Linked DNA regions of Homo sapiens: region 1 is linked to region 2. Evidence: fine-mapped expression QTL. A gene starts in region 2. The other region holds a variant in brackets. All regions are shown on one strand. Distances are from middle to middle. Region 1 overlaps ZFP14 (ZFP14 zinc finger protein). Region 2 holds the start of COX7A1 (cytochrome c oxidase subunit 7A1).

What was found. PIP is the estimated chance that this variant, and not a neighbour inherited with it, causes the effect.
Region 1: its variant is the best candidate, but not a certain one, in a credible set for the expression of COX7A1 in thyroid (GTEx, PIP 0.67).

Annotation. Positions count from the first base shown.
Region 1 is chr19:36,331,988-36,337,320 of GRCh38, forward strand. ZFP14 (ZFP14 zinc finger protein) reads right to left here. Exons shown (of 5, transcript NM_020917.3): 5 at 2,466-5,333. Among named protein-coding and RNA genes, the nearest start is that of LINC00665, 2.9 kb to the left of the region's middle. The variant C/T (reference allele first, on the strand shown) is at 2,337.
Region 2 is chr19:36,150,384-36,155,722 of GRCh38, forward strand. COX7A1 (cytochrome c oxidase subunit 7A1) reads right to left here and starts at 2,064. Exons shown (of 4, transcript NM_001864.4): 1 at 2,010-2,064; 2 at 1,286-1,372; 3 at 1,079-1,163; 4 at 539-651. The coding sequence starts at 2,024. The coding sequence ends at 599. RefSeq lists an enhancer at 4,960-5,339.

The sequences.
Region 1 (5,333 bases), 180 kb after region 2:
TACCTGCCGCGCCAAATCAAAATTTACAATCACCCTTGGTGCTGTTTCCTGCACTTTCTTGGAGATTTGCACCAGGCGCTGGAGACCCTCCCACCTGGCCCATGCCTGCCACCCGGTGAACACCAAGACCCAACCTTCTGCACCACCAGTCTTGTTGTCAGCGAACAGGCTAGTAAATTATTGAAGGGGTGGCCTGCCCCTCCACACCTGTGGGTATTTCTCGTCAGGTGGAACGAGAGACTGAGAAAAGAAAGAGACACAGAGACAAAGTATAGAGAAAGAAAAGTGAGCCCAAGGGACCGGCGCTCAGCACACGGAGGACCTACAGGGACACTGGTCTCTGAGTTCCCTCAGTATTTATTGATCATTATCTCTACCATCTCGGAGAGGGGGATGTGGCAGGCCAATAGGGTAATAGTGGGGAGAGGGTCAGCAGGAAAACGTGAACAAAGGTCTCTGTGTCATAAATAAGTTTAAGGAAAGGTGCTGTGCCTTGATGTGCACTTATACAAACATCTCGGTGCATTAAAGAGCAGTATTGCCGCCAGCGTGTCTCACCTCCAGCCCTAAGGATGTTTTCTCCTATCTCAGTAAGTAGAACATACAATCGGGTTTTACACCAAGACATTCTATTGCCCAGGGACGAGCAGGAGACAGATGCCTTCCTCTTACCTCAACTGCAAAGAGGCCTTCCTCTTTTACTAATCCTCCTCAGCACAGACCCTTTTCGGGTGTCGGGCTGGGGGATGTCGGGCTGGGGGACAGTCAGGTCTTACCCTTCCCATGAGGCCATATCTCAGGCTATCACATGGGGAGAAATCTTGGACAATACCTGGCTTTCCTAGACAGAGGTCCCTGCGGCCTTCCGCAGTGTATTGTGTCCCTGGGTACTTGAGATTAGAGAATGGTGATGACTTTTAACAAGCATATTATCTTCAAGCACTTTTTTAACAAAGCATAGCCCTAAATCCATTGAACCTTGAGTCAACACAGCACATGTCTCTGTGAGCACAGGGTTGGGGCTAGGGTTACAGATTAACAGCATCTCAAGGCAGAAGAATTTTTCTTAGTACAGAACAAAATGGAATCTCTTATGTCTACTTCTTTCTACATAGACACAGTAACAGTCTGATCTCTCTTTTCCCCACAGAAGGGAAGGGAGGGAGGGAGGGAAAGAAAAAGAAACCTTAAGCATTTTTTACAGATGAGGGTTCTGCTCTCCCTTAGTTCAGCCATGCTGTGGGGGAAGGGGAAGGAGTGTGGTAAGATGGCAGAGGAGGAAATAAAATATGGATGGCTTCTGCCTTTTCAGTTCTTTTCCTCATTTCCTGGCTTACTGTCCCTGGTTTCTGACTGCTTTGTGGTGAAGCTTCAGAATTGGAGAGAAAAAGAGGCCAGAATTGGTGGCTTATGCCTATAATCCCAGCACTTTGGGAGGTCGAGGCAGGCAGATAACTTGAGGTCAGGTTATAAATGTTTAATACCTAAAATGATCAATACCTAAAAAAAAAATTTTTTTTTTGAGAGGGAGTCTCATTCTGTCACCCAGGCTGGAGTGCAGTGGCGCGATCTCGGCTCACTGCAACCTCTGCCTCCTGGGTTCAAGAGATTCTCCTGCCTCAGCCTCCCGAGTAGCTGGGATTACAGGTGAGCACCACCACGCCCAGCTAATTTTTGTATTTTTAGTAGAGATGGGGTTTCACCATGTTGGCCAGGCTGGTCTTGAACTCCTGACCTCAGGTGATCCACCTGCCTTGGCCTCTCAAAGTGCTGGGATTACAGGCGTGAGCCACCGCACCCGACCGATACTAAACTATTTTAAGAATCCTGAAAAATCAATAAATGAGAATGCAAAAAAAAATACAGCAAAGGCATCATTAAAAAGCACAGTAAACACGATTGGCCAATAAACGCATATGAACAGATGCTTGACTCACTTGTAATCAAGGTAATAATTTTTTTTTTTTTTGAAACCGGGTCTCACTCCAACACTCAGGCTGGAGTGCAGTGGCATGATCACAGCTTACTGCAGCCTTGACTTCCCAGACTCAAGTGATCCGTCCACCTCCGCCTCCCAAGTAGCTGAGACCACAGGCACATGCCACCGCACCCAACCAATTTTTGTATTTTCTGTAGAAATGGAGTTTTGCCATGTTGCCCAGCCTGGTCTCGTACTTCTGGGCTCAAGCAATCCTCCTGCCTTGGCCTTCCAAAGTGCTGGGATTATAGGTGTGAGCCACCGTGCCTGGCCCAGTGTAATAAATATTGAAACTTATAGCAGAGGTAGGGAAATATGAACACTGATATTCAATGATCAAAGGGATTCAAAACTGGAA[C/T]AATGGTGGAGCCACAATTTGGCAATAAGCAGTGAAGCTGAAAGTGTATACAGCCTATAACGAACAATTTCATTTCTAGGTAATACCTTAGATTCTTGACTCTTTAAGGAAATTAAAAAATACACAAAATGATATTCAATATAGCATCTTTATTACCACAGAAACTCATTTATGTCCTTAATCATTGTTTAATATAATATATAAGCATGTTTAACACAAACATATCAAGGATCGGGCTGGAATCTTTTCCATTCTATAGAAAAGCACTAACCATCCATTAAAGCAGGTAGCTACTTTCAGAGCATGATATGAGCTGCAAAAAATTGCCCTGACTTATGCCGCCCCCAACACAACCACTCACCATATCTAAAATTACACCCTTGAAGACATTCATTGTGGTTATGGTAGCATCTAACAAAGCTGTTCCTATTCCAGATATTCGGACTGAGAATTCCACAATAAATTTGAGATACACTCAGTTAAATAAAAATGTCTTTACTAAATCTTTGGCAAACTGATCATGTATACTTTGAATTCCTCAAAAGTAGATTTTTATTTTATTTTATTTGAGACTGAGTTTCACTCTTGTTGCCCAGGTTGGAGTGCAATGGCAAAATCTCAGCTCACTGCAATCTCCATTTCCTGGGTTCAAGCAATTCTCCTGCCTCAGCCTCCCAAGTAGCTGGGATTACAGGTGCAAGCCACCACGCCCAGCTAATTTTGTATTTTTAGTAGAGACAGGGTTTCACCATGTTGGCCAGGCTGGTCTCAAACTCCTGACCTCAAGTGATCTGCTCGCCTTGGCCTCCCAAAATGTTGGGATTACAGGCGTGAGCCACCGTGCCTGGCCAAAAGTAGATGTTTTATGTTTTGCTTCATTTGCCTATTTTCCCAAGAAATCTTTTTTTCAAATACCATCGAGAATTAATATTCCTTGAAGCAAACTTCTGGAGAATGTTGAATTTAGGGGTCAAACACAGGCTTTCTGGAGGTATTTGGTGCTTGGGAAAAGAAACACTGACCTATTAGCAAAGATAGATTTTGTAATAAATTCTAAATAAACTTTATTTAGAATTGTGAAAAATAGAATCTTCATAATGAAGGTGGTCTAGAATTTGCTTTCAGAAACTATCTTCATCTAATTTTTATTAGGATTATTTTACCTTGCAGAATTAATTGGTAAAATCTTTAGGATTATCTATTCCTTAAAGTTTTTATAAGTATCAGATTTTTTAAACAGGGAGTTCACACACACACACACACACACACATTTTTTGTTAATCTATTTGGGTTATACGGTGAGTTAATTGTAAAACATATTCCTTTTGGGGGAAAAATGCAATCCTACATTTTTACTTGTACTGGAATGAATATACACGTTTGTGCATGTGTGCATGTATAGTTTTACCATATTATGTTTATTATTTTTGAGACAGGTTCTCACTCTGTCACCCAGGCTGGAGTGCAGTGGCGTGATCTTGGTTCACCGCAACCTCTGCCTCCTGGGTTCAAGCAATTCTCCTGCCTCAGGCTCCCCAGTAGCTTAGATTACAGGTGCCCGCCACCATGACAGGCTAATTTTTGTATTTTTAGTAGAGATGGGGTTTTGCTATGTTGGTCAGGCTGGTCTCGAACTCCTGACTTCAAGTGATCCACCCACCTCGGCCTCCCAAAGTGCTGGGGTTACAGGTGTGAGCCACTGTGCCCGGCCTAGTTTTGCCTTATAATTTTAAAAATCTGCTTGATATAATCTAGAGTTGTGTCTCTTTTATCATCATTAATACTCTAAATGTATTATCTTTCATTTTCTCTTCCTTGATTATAACTGCCAAAATCTAATCACTATTAACATTGAATCAAGTCTAATATTCTCCATTCTCTTAATTTCTACTTTCTACTGTTACTTGGCTGTTCCTTTTTTTTTTTTTTTTTTTTTGACAGACTCTTGCTCTGTTACCCAGGCTGGAGTGCAGTGGCGCGATCTCAACTCACCACAAACTCCGCCTCCTGGATTCAAGTGATTCTCCTGCCTTAGCCTCCCAAGTAGCTGGGATTACAGGCATGCACCACCATGCCTGGCTAATTTTGTATCTTTAATAGAGATGGGGTTTCTCAGTGTTGGTCAGGCTGGTCTCAAAATCCCGACCTCAGGTGATCCACCTGCCATGGCCTCCCAAAGTGCTGGGATTACAGGCATGAGCCACCGCACCTGGCCACTTGGCTGTTCTTTACTTGGGTTGGTTTTATTTTGTTGTTTCCTTTTTCTTGACGGAAATACTTATTCATTCCCTCAACACATTCATCTGTGTGACAGGCCTGGTGTTGCTGCTGTGGGTAAGTGAAGAAGATGAAGACTGTATCCACAAATAAGATTTCCTTACCACATTACAGGGCATTAATTTGTCACTGAACAGAACTTTGATTATATCTGACAAGGTTAGATGTGCAGGCATCTCACTGTCATTCATTTCTACATAGTCTATAATTTTGGTTTTGATTTTAAACATTTTATTATTGAAATTTCAAACACATACAAAAGTAGAAATATTAGAACAATAAGTCTCCATGAACAAAACACTCCACTTAAATTATCAACATGTTGCCAATTTAGTTTCCAGCTCTCTTTGCCAATTATTTCTTTTGCTAGAATATTTTAATCCAAATGTGTCTATCTTCATTTCATAGTATGTATCTCATATCATACGATCTTTTATTTTTTATAATCACACTGACATAATCCCTAACCAAATTAATATATGTAAATATCATTTAATATTTAGTCCATGTCCACACTTCCCTCACTGTCTCCAAAATGGCTTTTTATGTTTTGTTCAAACCAGGTCCAAGTAATGCCAACATACTGAATTTAGTTGATATGTCTCTTTAAGTCTCTTTTAATCTGTTAATGGTTGCCCTTCCCCTTGTATTTTCATGCTACCTGTTAGTTGAAGAAATCAGGTAATTTGCTCTGTAGAATTTCACACATTCTGGATCTGT
Region 2 (5,339 bases):
AGGAGGGGTGGCTCGGGCTCTGGGTCCTGGGGAGCAGGGGAGGTAGTAGATTCGTCCCCAGGGCTGGATCCGTGGATTTCCTCGTCTTTTTCTCGTCGGCATTTTTTGTCTCATCCTGAGCTGTGGAGGCTGAGACAGGACCCAGAAGCCCCAGTGATCTCTGCTTCTGCTTCCAGAGTCTGGGCTGGAGGGAGGTCTCAATGCCACTCCTGGCCCTGTCCCCCAAGGCCATGTTTGCCCCTCTTGCAGCTTCTCCATCCACACTTGGCCTCTGCCTCTGTTGTGTCATGGACCATGCTCAGTGTCTTCCTTCCCACTTGAGGACACCACCCCACGTCCCCGGGTCCCGAGGGGGAGCCTATGGGTGCTGTTTGGGGTACTCAGCAGAGGGCTGAGAGGTAGCAACATCCTAGGAGTATCCCTGGTCCAGCATGAGGCACCGAGGGCTGGGGGCAGTGGGCAGTCCACAGGGCAGAGATCCCTGGCTGGTGGGAGGATGGGCTTGGTGGGGAGGGGTGGACACAAACACAGACACACACAGAGGCCAGCGTTTATTGACACTTGTTCAAGTCTCTCAGGCCCCCCAGGCTTCTTGGTCTTAATTCCTGGGGAAGGAGGCCCAGCCAAGGGAGTACAAGCTGTAGACAGTGCCTAGAAAGGGGAAGCGTTGGAGACAGAATGAGACCTAATCCCCTCCCTGGACATCCCAGGCTTTTAAGGCCTTCAGGCTCCCTGGTTCCCAGCCTGGACCCCAGCTCTAGTTCGGACTCCAGCTCCCTTCCCAGATTGGACTCCTATTGTAAAGCCCCCTGGCTTTGATCTAGACCGGGCTGGGAGCTTTCTCCCCGACTCCTCCCTGGGCCTCAGCCCCACCACTAACCCAGCCCCCGTCCTGGGACAAGAGCCCAAACCCTAGTTACTCCCCTCCCTGCAGGCCTGACTCCAGCTCAGTACTCGACCCCCTTCCTAAACGCCAACCCCCAACCCAGATCCTGGTCAGTCCTGCCCAGAAACCAGCCACCTCTTACTCTGGGTCCAGCCCCGCCTCCCCCGCAGCCCAGACGGGCCCTGCGCTCACCGCCCAGACACAGCGTCATTGTCACTCGGTACAGGATGTTGTCAACGATGCCGCCCTTCAGGTACAACGGGATGTCATTGTCCTCCTGGATGTGGGGGTGTCTGATGAGAAAGGGGTGCTGGCTGCTCCTTAGAGCGCGCCCCGCCTGCCCCGGCTCGGCGCGCTCCCGGCTGGCGCGTCGGATCCCCACCCCCCCCGACCCCCCACCTGGAAGAGCTTCTGTTTCTCGCGCACTCGGTTCTGAAAGCGGTTCCGGGCGGTGGAGCTGAAGGAGCGGATCAGCGCCTGGGACACCTGCGGGGTGGGAGGTGGGCGGGTATTGGAGGCACCTGGAGGGGTGTCCTGAAGTGGGACCCCGCTCTCTGAGGCCTGGACGTGGGGACAGCCCCATCCCTAGCGAGCGTCCCAAAGGCGAGGAGGGTAATAGCTTGGATTCTGTTACCCGCGAACTGCCAGCTGGGTTGGGAGGGGACTCGCCCTGGAGTCTGGCCTGGGGGTGACCGGGCTGCCTAGAGGGTCCTGGAAGGGAGAGGACCCAGAAGGACTTTGTTCTGGGGGGCCTAAGTCCTGAGATTTTTGTTGGGGGAGGGTTTCCTGGATTAAAGGGAGGAAACCAGGTCCCGGGAACGTGGGGACCGGAATGGAGGTCCCCGGGAGCGTCCAGGCTGCCTGAGAAGGCCCGGGTGAGGCCAGTGTTAAGGGTTCCCGAGATGTCAAGTTCAAACCCGGGGCTTTGGGCCGGGGTGGGGGTCCCCAGTTGTCTCCGAAGAGTGGATTGTGGGGGAAGGGACCCAGGCTGTTTAGCGGGGAGTCCCAGGCCCTGAAGGTGGCTCACGTTCCAAGGCCCTAGATGCGGGGGCACTTGGAGAGTCGCGTATTAGGGCGGGGTTTTCTGGGTGGGGGGCTCCGGCCCAGCCCATGGGGGCCTCACCCGAAGGGCCTGCATTCTGCCTTGTCCTCTTCCGCCGGAGTCACCTCCCTTCTCCGCCCAAGGACACGCGTAGTCCTCCTCTGTCCAGGAACCCCAGGCCCCACCCGCTGCGCGCAGCGTGACAGCTGGGGACGCGGCGGGGCTGGGGCTGGGGCTGGGGCTGGGTTGCGGGGAGTCCTGCTCCTCGGATTCGTCCACCACGGAGGAGGCGGTCCAGACCCGCACCCTGGGCCGCAGCGCGCATCCGTTTCGGTCTCGGAATTTCGCTTGGTCCCACCGGAGCCCAAAGCGGTACCAGGGAATACATTTTTGCAGATTTTTGGAGATTTCCGCCGGGGGCAAGTGCAACTCCTCCCCGGATCTCTCCCTGCCCGCTGGTATGTGAGAGTGAGGAAACGCATAAGGCCGTGTTCCAACTCCCTGTTCTGTCTACACAGCCAGAGATTGCACCTCCGAGCCTGTTTCCGTATCTGTAACGTGAGGGCTAAGGCAGGATCTTTCTCAGAGATTTGTTGAGACATTAAATGACCTTGTTTTTAGGAAACACAAGCTAAAGTCTTTGGGAGTAAAACGGTATTTTATGTTACCCTAAGAAACACATCATATCTATTTATAGCTCTCTAATTCTGGCAGTCAACGGGGTGCAGCACAGTTGTCCTAATGGTTTTAGCAACCAGGAAAGATCCTGGCCTAGTCTACAAGGTTTTCTTTTTCTTTTCTTTTTTTTCTTTTTTTTTTAGACAGGGTTTTGCTCTGTTGCACAGGCTGGAGTGCAGTGGTGCGGTCATAGCTCACTGCAGCCTCGACCTCCTGGGTTCAGCGATCCTCCTGCCTCAGCCTCCTGAGTGGCTGGGACTACAGGCGCCCACCACCATGCTCGAACTAATTTTCGTATTTTTTGTAGAGGCTGGGTTTCACCATGTTGCCCAGGCTGGTGTCGAACTCCTGAGCTCAAGAAATTTGCCGGCCTCATCGTGAGCCACGCACCCAGCCAGCAGACAATGTTTGTTTGTTTGTTTTTGAGGCAGTGTCTTGCTATGTTGCCCAGGGTGGTCTCCAACTCCTCCAAGTAATGTTCCTACCTCTATCACCCAAAGTGCTAGAATTAGAGGCATGAGCCACTATACCCAGCTTGTAAAAGGTTTTAACAATCTCTTTTATTTATTTATTTAATTTATATTTTTAGACAGAGTCTTGCTCTGTTGTACACGTTGGAGTGCAGTGGTGTGATCTCGGCTCACTGAAACCTTCTGCCTCCTGGGTTTAGGCAATTCTTGTACCTCAGCCTCCTGAGCAGCTGGGATTACAGGCACCCGCCACCACACCCAGCTCATTTTTGTATTTTTTAGTAGAGATGGGGTTACACCATGTTGGCCAGGCTGGTCTCAAGCTCCCAACCTCAGGTGATCCGCCCACTTTGGCCTTCCAAAGTGCTGGAATTACAGGCCTGAGCCACCGCTTCCAGCCACGGTCTCTTTTAAAGAGGGCTTTTATGATTATTAAATTCCCCTAACACTTTCAAACTATGCTTGTAAATTTAATGTTAGGTTTTTCCATTTAAGAGCCACAAGTAGGGCTGGGCGTGGTGGCTCACACCTGTAATCCCGGCACTTTGGGAGGCCAAGGCAGGTGGATCACTTGAGGCTGGGAGTTTGAGACCAGCCTGGTCAACATGACAAAACCCTGTCTCTACTAAAAATACTAAAATTAACCAGGTGTGGTCATGGGCGCCTACAATCCCAGCTGCTTGTGAGGCTGAGGCACAAAAATCGTTTGAACCCAAGAGGCACGGAGGCTGCAGTGAGCCAAGATTGCACCACTGCACTCCAGCTTGGGTGACAGAACGAGATTCTGTCTCAGAAAAAAAAAAAAAAAAAAGCTGACTTACCAGATAAACAGATGACTCTTTCTTCAATTCTTAAATAACTTTTATGAATAAAAAATTCATAAACTGTACATAAACAGATTTCAAGTAAGTCTTAGTCACCAGCTGAATTCCACATTTTACAATGGAATTACAAGATTGACCTGTTATTTGAATAGGCCAGTTTACCTTAAATATTACAAATTCTTAAAATACCAAGTATTCACAGATTCTCTAACACAAAGTTAATACCATGGGGGCCAGGCACTGTGGCTCACGCCAGTAATTCCAACACTTTGGGAGGCCGAGGTGGGTGGATCACCTGGGTCAGGAGTTCGAGACCAGCCTGGCCAGCATGGTGAAACCCCGTCTCTACTAAAAATACAAAAATTAGCCAGGCGTGGTGGTGGGTGCCTGTAATCCCAGATACTCCGGAGGCTGAGGCAGGAGAATCACTTGAACCTGGGAGGCGGAGGTTGCACTGAGCAGAGATTACGCCATTACACTCCAGCCCGGGCAAGAGAGCGAGACTCCATCTCAAAACAAAACAAAACAAACAAGTTAATACTATGGTTTTGACTGTCTTAATTTTCTTTTTTCTTTTTTGAGACGGAGTCTTGCTCAGTCACCCAGGCTGGAGTGCAGTGGCGCCATCTCGGCTCACTGCAAGCTCCGCCTCCCAGGTTCACGCCATTCTCCTGCCTCAGGCTCCCCAGTAGCTGGGACTACAGGCGCCCGCCACCACGTCCAGCTAAGTTTTTTTTTTGTATTTTTAGTAGAGACAGGGTTTCACCGTGTTAGCCAGGATGGTCTCAATCTCCTGACCTCGTGATCCACCCGCCTCGGCCTCCCAAAGTGCTGGGATTACAGGCGTGAGCCACCACGCCCAGCCTCTTTTTTTTCTATTTGAGATGAAGTCTCGCTCTGTCACCCAGGCTGGAGTGCAATGGCGCAATCTCTGCTCACTGCAGTCTCCGCCTCCCGGGTTCAAGTGATTCCCCTGCCTCAGCCTCCCAAGTAGCTGGGACTAGGTGCACGACACCACGCCTGGCTAATTTTTTGTATTTTAGTAGAGACGAGGTTTCACCATGTTGGCCAGGATGGTCACGAACTCCTGACCTCAGGTGATCCATCTGTCTCGGCCTCCCAAAGTGCTGGGATTACAGGCGTGACCCACTGTGCCTGTCCTGTTTTTCTTTCATTTTCTTTATTTGTTTATTTCATGCGCGTCCGTGTGAAGAGACCACCAAACAGGCTTTGTGTGAGCAACATGGCTGTTTATTTCACCTGGGTGCAGGCGGGCTGAGTCAGAAAAGAGAGTCAGCGAAGGGAGATAGGGATGGGGCCATTTTATAGGATTTGGGAAGGTAATGGAAAATTACTGTCAAAGGGGGTTGTGCTCTGGTGGGCAGGGGCGAAGGGGTCACAAAGTGCTCAGTGGGGGAGCTTCTGAGCCAGGAGAAGGA